3 linked regions of the Homo sapiens genome follow. The protein of the gene in region 1 purifies or fractionates together with the protein of each later gene. This does not show direct contact. Each region holds a gene or a part of one and is shown in the gene's direction. Other genes may lie near its edges.

Region 1 (3,652 bases):
TTAAAATAGCAGTGTATTTAGAAAAGCCCATATAAAGATTTCATGAACAAATTTCAGTGCATCCATAGGACGGAATAATATGTAACTATTGAGGGTGTCAGTACATAGAGATATGTCGACATGCAAAGATGTACTTTGCTATAGCAAGTGAGAAAAAAATCAGTTTGTTACACATATACACGAACAGAATCTGCTCTTGTGTTAGCTGAAAATATGTAGAAAATATAATCAAACTTGTTTCTGGGGATTTGTAAATGAAGTTTTTCCTTTTATCTGTGATTTCTGCAATGAACATCTGAACTTTTAGTTTAGGTTCATTAGTAATGACATAATCCTTGGGAAGAGAAGGAATATGCTTCTTGCATAGATGCAAATAATTTCTCACATTCTATTATTTATTTTTATTTCTGTGGTTGGCTATCTACTGTGAACTTTTACCCTCTTCAGAAGTAGAGGGATTGTGTTTACCTGTTCCTGTAGATTTTATTGTATATAGATTTTATCACATAATTACCTTTTCATTATATATAGATTAACATGTAAAAAGTATGAATTAATCATTTTAGTTGAGTTATATATTTATGAAAATTAAAATAGCAAATATAAATGATATTACTATTGCAAATGTATTGCCCTACTCTACAGGAGTTTTCTTTAAAAATATTGAACTCCCAAGCTGTGTTCATCCATTGTTTTCAATCCGTTTAGTCATCAGACATAAGCCAGACGCCTATTATGGGGCAGGCATATTCTACTATCTCTCAGGATCCTTCCATCTTTGAAAACATTTATGTTTGCCTGCTGGGCTTGAGCAAGCTGAGAGATTTAAAATTGGGGCATTAGGACTTAATCTCAATTGAAGCTTCTCCTCCCTCCTTTCAAACAGAAGCATTTCTGAAGGTAGAAAATAGTAAAAGACAACCCTTAACTGCCCTTTTGAAAATGTATAAGTCTTGGATAAAGACTGTTTTAGTTGTTTTAAGAACTAAAATGTGGTACATAAACAGCATGGAATACTATGCAGCCATAAAAGAAGGAACGAGAGCCTGTCCTTTGCAGGAACATGGATGGTGTTGAAAGCCATTATCCTTAGCAAACTAACATAGGAAGAGAAAACCAAATACTGTATGTTCTCACTTATAGGTGGGAGCTAAATGATGTCAACACACAGATACCTAGAGGGAAGCAACACACACTGGGGCCTATCAGAGGGTGGAGGGTGGGAGGAGGGAAAGAAGCAGGAAATAGAATGAACGGGTACTGGGCTTAACACCTGGGTAATGAAATAATCTGTACAACCAACCCCGTTGGTGCACGTTTACCTATGTAACAAACCTGCACATCCCGCACATGTACCCCTGAATGTAAAAGTTGAAAAAAGCTCCACAAATAGTTTCATAAATCCATTTTAAAAAGAGAAAATTTATAACAGTCTTAAATCCTAATATGAATGATTGGAAATATCTGATGTACATACATTGTATAAATCTAAGTATTGAAAAAAATGAGCCCATGCTATTCATTTCAATTCCAAGTTTTGTTTGGCTTAAAGTTTATTGAAAACCAAAGTAAGAATTGGTTTATTTTAGAAATTTGTTTTTGTTTTCACTTCAGCTCTCTTATTCCATAGTACTTTTAAGAACTAAAATTTAAATGCTGGTCATCTGACTGGAACCGCCCCAGACCTGTTACATTATAACATATTCTACTTAATGTAAGGCACCAGAGATTGTACGATGCCCCATTATTTTATGTCTCAATAAGAGAATTATTTAAATGCCACCAATTATAGTAAATCATGAATTGTAAGTGGTATTTCAGTGGAGACAACATGGAGACAATGATCATCTCAGAATCACTAAAATACAATGTTAGCTGTAATATTTAAAACACACCTGAAAGTGTAGGTATAATTGTATCATCTCACTTAATTCAAATGTTGTCTTTAGTGGTATTAGTAAAAATCATAATATCTAACAATTATTGAGCTGTTATTTGTGTTAGGAACTATTCTGTATCTTTTGTGCCGAGTCTCATTTAAGCATTACAGTGGTTTCCTGTGAGAAAGCTACTATTTTCATTCCTATTTTATTGATGAGGAAACTGAGACCCCAAAAGGCTAAGCAACAGCCAGAAAGTGACAGAGCTTCAAGTAGGATTCCAGCCCAAGTTGAATGTCATCCAAGGGCTATGCTCTTTGTATTCATATAGGCTGCTCTTTCATTAATACAGCGAGTAATGAGAGATAATAAATCGTGTGCTTTTTTCATGGGAAAGTTAAATGTTTGTTTTGAAGGCACAGTAATAGCAGGCTATTCAGTGTTTGTGATTATGTGTGTCATTGATATGGCTGTAGCTAGTGCACTACAATTTCCTAAAAAGTCTTCTCACCCTCATAGGACTGCTCTACATCTGGCCTCTGCCAATGGAAATTCAGAAGTAGTAAAACTCCTGCTGGACAGACGATGTCAACTTAATATCCTTGACAACAAAAAGAGGACAGCTCTGACAAAGGTATGCAGTAGCCAACTATGTCAGCGTGAAGTGGGTTTGATTTCAATACATAGCATAAAAATGAGTTTTCTCCTTTAAATATAACTAGTTGGTGAAAGCTGTGGAATGTTATTTTGAAATCCTAGGATTTGTAATTTGTTTATGGTGTAATACTGACAGGCCGTACAATGCCGGGAAGATGAATGTGCGTTAATGTTGCTGGAACATGGCACTGATCCGAATATTCCAGATGAGTATGGAAATACCGCTCTACACTATGCTATCTACAATGAAGATAAATTAATGGCCAAAGCACTGCTCTTATACGGTGCTGATATCGAATCAAAAAACAAGGTATAGATCTACCAATTTTATCTTCAAAATACTGAAATGCATTCGTGTTAACATTGACCTGTGTAAGGGCCAGTTTTCCATATTTGGAAGCTCAAGCATAACCTGAATGAAAATATTTTGAAATGACCTAATTATCTAAGATTTTATTTTAAATATTGTTACTTTCAAAGAAGCATTAGAGGGTACAGTTTTTTTTTTTAATGCACTTGCGGTAAATACTTTTTTTTGAAAACACTGAATTTGTAAAAGGTAATACTTACTATTTTTCAGTTTTTCCCTCCTAGGATTCTTTTCCCCTAATGAATGTAAAATGGCAAAATTTGCCCTGAAATAGGTTTTACATGAAAACTCCAAGAAAACTTAAACATGTCTCAGTGAATAGAGATCCTGCTTCTTTGGCAAGTTCCTAAAAAACAGTAATAGATACGAGGTGATGCACCTCTCAGTGGCAAGGCTTAAGATATTTCTGATTGCTCATGAGGCAGAAGTGGAAAGGGAAAAAGAGAGCAGTCAGAAATATCAGGGCCAATTTGGAAATTAGGCAATAGAGGGAAAAGACCATGAAGAGGTTGTGTGTGTGTGGTGTTGTTGTTGTTGTTCATTTATTTATTTCCTTTGTATGGTGAGACAAAGTTCTCTTTGATTTTAGAGAATGACAGTTTTCAGTTTGGGAGAGGGAGTTAGTGGGTTGTAAACTGCCTAGAGATGAATTTTAGGAGGCCTCTGAGGAACCAGATTGGCAGTGAATAGGTGGGTAATGTAAGGGGAAACCCTTGAGCAGGGGGAATATCAAGTAATTAACTGA
Region 2 (4,083 bases), on another chromosome or scaffold:
ATTAACATTTAGGTTTTCATTTTTAAAGCATTAAATAATAGATCCATTTGATTCTGTGCCACTTGCCAATGTTTAGATATAATAAACACTTTGACTTTTGCTTAATACTGCAGAAGCTGCAACTGGAAAATTCTATCCTGCGTTGTAGACAATGGATATATTCCACAGGAGTTTTTTGTTCTCAGTTTTAAGCTCTGATTTCCAAATCATGATTTAAAAAGTATATCATGCCCTCTGCACTAAGTTAGGTGATCACAGATGCAAAACCTACATCCAGCTTTGGAAAGAGTTCCAGAGAGAGAAGCCCTAGCAATGGTTTGTTTTTGGCTAACATAGCACATTGTATTATTTTTCAAACAAAAGTTTGAAATCAGCTTATACCTAACCTGAGAACGAGGGACAGATGTTTTTCTCCGGCGTTCTGTTTGCTGTAATTTGTGCTGAGAGATTCACTGGTCGTTTTAAAGCTGTTTTTACGCCCCCTCCTTTGTGCGACCTCCACTTGCGCTATGGGCCTTGCCCGGTGGGAAAGGGAGCGTGCAGAAGGGACCCCAAAACGCACTCTCGGGGATGCTCCTGAGTCAGTAAGCAAGTGATTTCCCCCTGCGGGTTCATCTAGTTCCCGTTAGCTCAACCCCGGGTTTAGAGGAAGAACGAAATCCAGAGAGTGAAGCTGGGAGGTGAATGCGTGGCAAAAACTCATGGAAAAAAAAAAAAAAAGCAGTTTCAAGGACTATGCTGCAACCCGCCAAGCAGTGGCTTTCCTCAAGCTGCTGTAACCAGCTGCTTCTCCCTGCTCCTCGAACTTGCTTGAGTTCCGAGGGAAGCGCCTGCTTTTTGGGTGCGTGGCCAGGGTGGGTGGTGGCCAGGATTCGAAGGCGACAGTGAAGGGGAGCGAGTTCCCGGGATGGAACTTGACGTGGAACCCGGGGTCCCATCGAGGGGCTCCCCACGGCCTCGGGTGCTTGGGCTGCGACTGGTTTTTCATTTGGCGTAGGCGTGGGGGGTAGGAGGCAAAGTGCCAAGGGCTTTCCCGGGCTCACAGTGTCTCATGGTCCGCCACTGCCTGCGGTGGCGCTCGGCTTGACCCCGGCTCGGGCCCCGCACGCGGCGGCGGTCAAAGGGCGTGCTCGCGGCAACCGCAGGGCACGCGGGCCGGCCGCGCGGGGGGCGGGGCGGCAGTGGCGGTTGCGGGGCATGCGCGGCTCCGCGCGCGGCTTCTCAAACATGGCGGCGGCGGTGTGAAGCTCGGTGCCGGCTCGCGCGATCGGTGGGACAGAATTTCGTTGTTTTCACCGACGAGACTGGAGGTACGTGGTGATTCCGGGCCCCGTAAGGAATGGAGAGGCGGAGGTGTGTCCCGGACCCCGACCGTTGTCCGTGGGCGGGCGGGTAGAAGCCATCAGCGCGCGTCCCGTGCGAGGAACGCCCCCTTACGATCCCGCCTATGTCCCATCTCAGTTCGGCTTCGCGATAGGGTATCCCGCCCCCGGCGCCTTCCGCGGACGCCCTTCAGCCGATCTCGCGTTTCCCCTCACGCCGCCCCGGGGCCTTTTCGCCGCCGCGGGGTTTGGGCGCCCGGCCGATAGCTTCCACCCGTCCCCTCGCCTGCAGCGCCGACAGCGCCCTCCGGCGCATCCTCCCTGCCGTGGGTAGGGCCGGGCTGGGGCCTGGGGGGCATCACGGTGGGTGGCGGGGCGGAGGAAGGAGGTAGACTTTGCCTGGTCTGGGCTGAGATAACTTTTGGAGTTTGGGAGGGAAACGTCGGCCCGGAAGGATGCGCCTGTGGCGGCGTGCGGGCGCAAATCCTGGTGCCAAGGTGCGCGCCGCCGGGCTCCTGGCGGGGGCTGGGGGCGCCGGTGGCTCACCCTAGCGGTGCAGCGGGACCGGAATGCGCGTCCCGTCCGGGGCTGGCGGGGAGGCGAGGAGGGGCTCTAAGCCTCCTGAGGGGCGGAGAGGCGGCCTCGCGGCCTGACCGAAAAAAAGTTGCTGCCGTCACTTAGAAACAGTCTCGAAATGGTTTCTTACCTTTCTCGCTTTTTCCACCTGTATCGTGCTTGCGCCCCATCCAGGTGTGAAGAGCCGGAGGGAGAATGGGTCTAGGCGAATTTGCTCGATTTTGCGCCTCAAGGTTGTACATAGATAGCTTCCTGGGCCGACTTGTAATTCGGCTCCCCCAAACCCCAAATGTTTGGGCAGCACAAGTATTTACTTACAGGCTCCCATTTGAGACTATTTATTTTTTAAAAAGAGGTTGTTAAACATTTGTCAAGCATCACAAAGTGTGATTGCAACTTGAAATTTGCTTCTTGTTTGTAAATTAGGAGATTAACGTTTATGACTTACTTTAGGTCTTCTCTGGAAAGTTAATGGATCGATTAGTGGGGGTAAACTGAGGCAGGGAAAGTGAATAAGTTGCTTATGATCATATGATTTACAAAAGTATTGGAGATAGTTGTTTTTTTCCCTAAAACAGCTTCAGATGCTGCTACATTTTAATGCCCCCAGAGCTATTCATATTTCTGTTTTGAGGGAAAAGTATTTTAAGATGTACAACATTTATGGAGTACAGCTGCCTATGATGAGCAATTGTTTTATAACAATGGTTCATAAACGCATATTTAATTCTTTTCAATAACAGCGAGGGAAATGTTTTTCAATAATGACGATTTTGCCTTTCTTTTATTTTTCTTAATTACTCATTAAATAAAATATTTCCAATTACGAATGTGCTTTCAGGCTGTTTGTGTGTTTTTTTTTTTTTTTTCTATTTAATGGGAGGAATGTGAAAATAAGCTTTTGGAAATGAATCCAGTGGGATTTTTGAGAAAAGATTGAGTTTATGAGTATTCACCTGATGCCTTGTGTTTAGCTTTATCTATAACCTTTAAAACAGTTTGATAGAATGTAAAGAAAAAACACCATTTAAACTGGCTTTGAAAGTTTTGAATGAACTTTATATATACATCATGCAGCCATATGAACTTCTTAAGGATGTATACTTGTTTACCCCAGAGAACCTGATTTGCTTTGGAATTGGTAGTTGGAAAAAAGATTACTGTAACTCTACTGCATTATATGTGCGGGTGCTTTAAAGTTGATAGTGTCATAACGTTCAAAAATCATTACAGTCAGTCTAAAAAAGGTGTATCAGTTTTTCTCATGAGGTGGTTGATCAGTCCTTTTGATTTATGATTCCATCAACACATCTTTATTAAGCACCTGTGCTGTCTTTACTATGGAGTTCAGTTTATTCAGAGCCCACTACGTGTGCTAATTTCAGGGTGTTTAAGGCTTTCCACCCATAGTTTATTCCTGAAAATTTCAGGGAGTTATAGCTAAAAAAATCAATACGAATGTAGAACAAGTATTCCTTTCATTCAAAGGGCGAACTCGAGAAGTCAGTATTTTTGTCATAATTCTCCAAACAAAATTCTGAGTGTAGCTGCAAACTATTTCTGACTTACGTGATGTTAACTTTGTGATTTTTTGGTTAGGATTATATAAAGCTATATATTTTCATGAGATTATTTTCTGGTTCAAATAGATAACATACTGGTTAAGCTTGAGGGGAAAAATGAGTTGCTGGTATAAATGGAAATCAATATGTGCTCTGAAGATTGGGTATTTTTTAATACTAAGCAATTTCTATTACTAAGTAGTTTAAGCTGTAATTAAGTTTTAACTGGTATTTTAAAGCACTTTGTTTTTTCAAAATGTTGCAGAAATCTCTGAGCTCAGAAATAACAAATAAGGGTTATGATCCTCAGCTATAAGCCAGATGTGACTCTTATTTTCTTTTGGGCTTGTTCCTTTTTAGCTGCCTGCCTGTTCCTCCCAGATGCTTCCTATCACCCCTCTTCCTGCCCCTGTTCCCTTTGCTGTTGGTGTCTGTTTCCGCATCAGTGAAATGGTCAGGGTAATCCTTTGCTGCTTCACTGAGAAATAATTAATGATGGTAAAGTGCCTTGAAAAGGCTGAGTAAATACCAAGTCTTTTGAATTAACTTGATGTAGCCACTTGTTCCATTTAAGGAAGAGCCAAATCCCAATTTTAGTTTGAGCTCTTGGGGGTGCGAGAGAA
Region 3 (3,652 bases), on another chromosome or scaffold:
GCTGTTCCTAGGCAGGTTACTCAAACCTGGGTCTCTTATCAATGCAAATAATAATGGTATCTCATGGATACGGTTGTTGTGAGGATTAGAGTGGTAAAATATGCAAAAGCCTTAGCTAACATTTAATGTCTCATGTAGGGCGAGGATTCAGTGAATGGTACTTAATTATTATGTTTCTGTTTTTTTCCTGCCCTAAGCTTTCTGGAAAGAGGTACATTATTATCCTGATAGCTATCTGTTCACCTACACCAAAGAATTCATTAATTTGATTATTCTTTTTCCATTCCGAGTGAAAGTAAACATTACTGGCTGGGGCTTAGACACATTGTTTCTGATGATTTTTAAATTAATGCTTCCAAGTGATTCATGCAGTTTAGGACCTTTGACTAGTGTTTAAGTGCTTTTTATTTGTAAGTAAAGAGGCAGTACTGTGGATAAGGAGCGAGGATGGTACGAGCATTAGCTTGTTTAATAGTAGCATGAGGAAATCTTAAATAAAAGGAATTTTACTTGAAACTGTTAGTAAACTTTGTATAATAAATTATTTAGCATTCTGTTCCTATCAGCTAGTCATATCTGGTTTTTAATCTACCATTTTTATGTCAGTCCCTTTAATGTTTAGTTTTCTTAAATCAGGGAATCTTATGTGTCATTTATCAGTTTCCTCAAATTCAAAGTTCTATTTAATGAGCATGGGTTAGGGAGGATGGAGAGTTGGAATACTCTATTCTCTTTTAAATAGACAAACAAAAACAGTAACGATGGGAAAGAGAGGGAGCACTTTGTTAAAGTTGGCATTGATGCCCTGTTTTGTCTTCCATGACTTATTCCCTTCACAATGATGATAAATGAACACATGTGAATACCTCCTCTCAATAAGACTGCAGTAGCTCCACCATTTTAAATAACTTACTGAGTGTGGAAGTCAGGTAGAGTAGACATGCACAAACTCATGATATATATGCCAAGTGAGTTTGTATGATACAGTGGAAAAAGGCCTGGAGTTAAGGTCAAAAGATCAGGTTTCTTATCCCAGTACTAGCACTTGTAGGCGCTGTACTCTTAAGCCTCATTTTTTTTTTGTCTTTTTTTAATCTGTGATCAAGGATGAAAGATAGTACTTGCTGTTGAAAACATCAAATAAGATGAAATGGTTTTAATAATGAAATTAATGCTGTTGTGTGAATACTAGTTATTTTCATACTAAGGAGCAAGAATTCATTGAGTCTCAAAACAGGTTGTGTTATTCTGTATACAGTATTATTTTACATTAATGCTACGAGCAGTAACTGCCCATTGTGTTTTCTAAAAATCATTTAAGTGATCTTCAGTGAAAATTATAATCTCCACTGAAATGTTCTGTGTTTAGCCTATCTTAGGTTTTTATTTTCTTTCTTTTCAAAAGCCTTAAGTACATGTAAACCATTTTAAAATGCCCTTTTAATCCTCCTCAAAGGACTTGCTATGCCTCAGGGTTGAAGTTTTGCTTCCTTGGGTCAAGCATAACATGATTCCATATGCTAGAATCCTAATTTGAAGGAGAATATAAGTTTCCCAACCTTATTCCCTCTTCTAGGGTAAATAAACTACACTTCAGTTCAACAGTGTAGAACTTGGTAAATTTGAGAACAGGCCTCTGTTTCCCTTAAGTGATAGGAACTTTCTGTTCTCTTTCTCTAACTTCTGTAATAACGTGGAGCTGTTGTTCTTTTCGTATGGTTTATTCTGCAATCCTAGAAACCTTTTTAAAAACAATTCTATTCTGTTAGAAGTCAAGAGCATAGTTACCCTTGGGGGTGGGAGGTTGTGACTGGGAGAGGGTAGCAGAGGAGTTTCAGGGTTCAGTAGTGTTCAGCTTCTTGATGTGGGTGCTGATATATAGTTGAGTTCACTTTGAAAATTTATTGAGCTTGTAGGACTTAAGGTCTTCTCTGTGTATATATTATACATATTCCAATAAAATATCCCAAAATATTGACCTCACCTTGGCATTATCCTCAACAAGTCCTCCTTCAGTTGGAAGGTTTGTTTTCTTCTCTGTACTTACAGTTTGAATTAATCTGCTATATATTTTGTTTTAATTAAGTAAACTTAGGAAAAACCTGGGTCTGCTATGTTTTAAAATGCTTATAGAAAAGAACCTGAAAGGAAGAAGGGCAAAATCACTTATTCTAAGTGGTATGATTATTTTGATTTTTTCTTTATACTTGCCTATGCTTTTCAAAATTTCTGTTATGCGTTTATTACTTTTGTAGTCTATGAGAAAAATCTGTACTGTCGTGAAAGAAGAAATAAACTGTATAAACTTGGGGCTTTTCATAATAGGATATGAAAATATATTTAGAAAACATCATTATAGGATAACAGTTTTTTTCACATTTGTACTTTGTTACAGATATGCTAGTCTGTATTTTTGCTGTGCTATTGAGGATCAGGACAATGAACTAATTACCCTGGAAATAATTCATCGTTATGTGGAATTACTTGACAAGTATTTCGGCAGTGTGAGTAGTATTTTATTTTAGGAAATTGAATGCCATAGTATATTTTGGAACCTTTTCTCTAACAAGTTTATTTTTTGGTTGTCTTGGGGATTCTAACCGCGGGAGAGGGTGGGAATGACTATTTATTAGTAGAAATTATTAAGTTGTCCATATTGGGAACATGCAGAGCCCAGTCTTATTTAGCTTGTAGGAATATGTTTTCAAGTACTTGAGATTTGGAAATTAAGCTTACTTAAACCAGTGATACTTAGTCATTTTTAGAAAGAGTTAAGATTGATTCACTCTAGTTCGATTTTATTCACTACCTGATAGTGAATAAGCATCTTCTGCTTCTGCAAGTTTTAACAATTTTTTCTTTTCTTTTTTCTTTTTTTTTTCCTTTTCAGGTCTGTGAACTAGATATCATCTTTAATTTTGAGAAGGCTTATTTTATTTTGGATGAGTTTCTTTTGGGAGGGGAAGTTCAGGAAACATCCAAGAAAAATGTCCTTAAAGCAATTGAGCAGGCTGATCTACTGCAGGAGGTAAGCTACTTATTCTCTTCACTAGGCACTAGCATGTTTTGCTCTTGCTGGGGAAGTCTCATTCATCATTCTTACAGTTTCAGAAAGTACTCTGAAGCATGCTTGTCATGTAGTGTCCATCCATGTGCAGTTTATTGACTGGAATATGTGTCAGTCACGTCAACTCAGTTATCTATGGATGGATGGTTCAGTTTGGAGATGGTCTATCGGTCAGGCCTCTTCCCAATGGCCCTTTTTGGACCCTAAAACACTGGAGTCTAAACCTTTAGAGGACAGACTATTTGAAGAAGGGAAAAGATTGGCTGAAAGTAGCAGTAAGTTGAGAACTCTCCATCTATTGCTTCAAATTGTTTAAGATAACCCCCTTTTTCATTAGTGTAGATAATCAGGAGTTGACTATGAGATTATGACATTTTAATTCCAAATTGGCTCATATTTTTACCTCATGTCCATTAAATGCAAAAGTAGCCAAGCAAATGATAGTGTTTTCTAATTATACTTTTTGTAGAAACTTCCAGGTTTTTTTTGTTAGCAAAACTAAACAGTATTTGCATTTCTCTTTGCTCTTCTTAAATAACAAACCATGTTCTGTCAAACTGCATTCTTGTCTTACCTCCATATCCC

What was found.
Region 2: the proteins of POTEG (region 1) and SCML2 purify together in Homo sapiens (affinity purification with mass spectrometry; one large-scale study listed by BioGRID and IntAct). This does not show direct contact.
Region 3: the proteins of POTEG (region 1) and AP1S2 purify together in Homo sapiens (affinity purification with mass spectrometry; one large-scale study listed by BioGRID and IntAct). This does not show direct contact.

Annotation. Positions count from the first base shown.
Region 1 is NC_000014.9:19,427,737-19,431,388, reverse strand, and holds part of POTEG (POTE ankyrin domain family member G), read left to right. Parts: intron 1-2,399; coding exon 2,400-2,514; intron 2,515-2,673; coding exon 2,674-2,847; intron 2,848-3,652.
Region 2 is NC_000023.11:18,351,819-18,355,901, reverse strand, and holds the start of SCML2 (sex comb on midleg-like protein 2), read left to right. Parts: upstream 1-1,213; 5' UTR 1,214-1,310; intron 1,311-1,625; exon of another isoform or gene 1,626-1,652; intron 1,653-4,083. UniProt on the Homo sapiens protein: Putative Polycomb group (PcG) protein. PcG proteins act by forming multiprotein complexes, which are required to maintain the transcriptionally repressive state of homeotic genes throughout development.
Region 3 is NC_000023.11:15,844,755-15,848,406, reverse strand, and holds part of AP1S2 (AP-1 complex subunit sigma-2), read left to right. Parts: intron 1-2,395; coding exon 2,396-2,504; intron 2,505-2,890; coding exon 2,891-3,028; intron 3,029-3,652. UniProt on the Homo sapiens protein: Subunit of clathrin-associated adaptor protein complex 1 that plays a role in protein sorting in the late-Golgi/trans-Golgi network (TGN) and/or endosomes.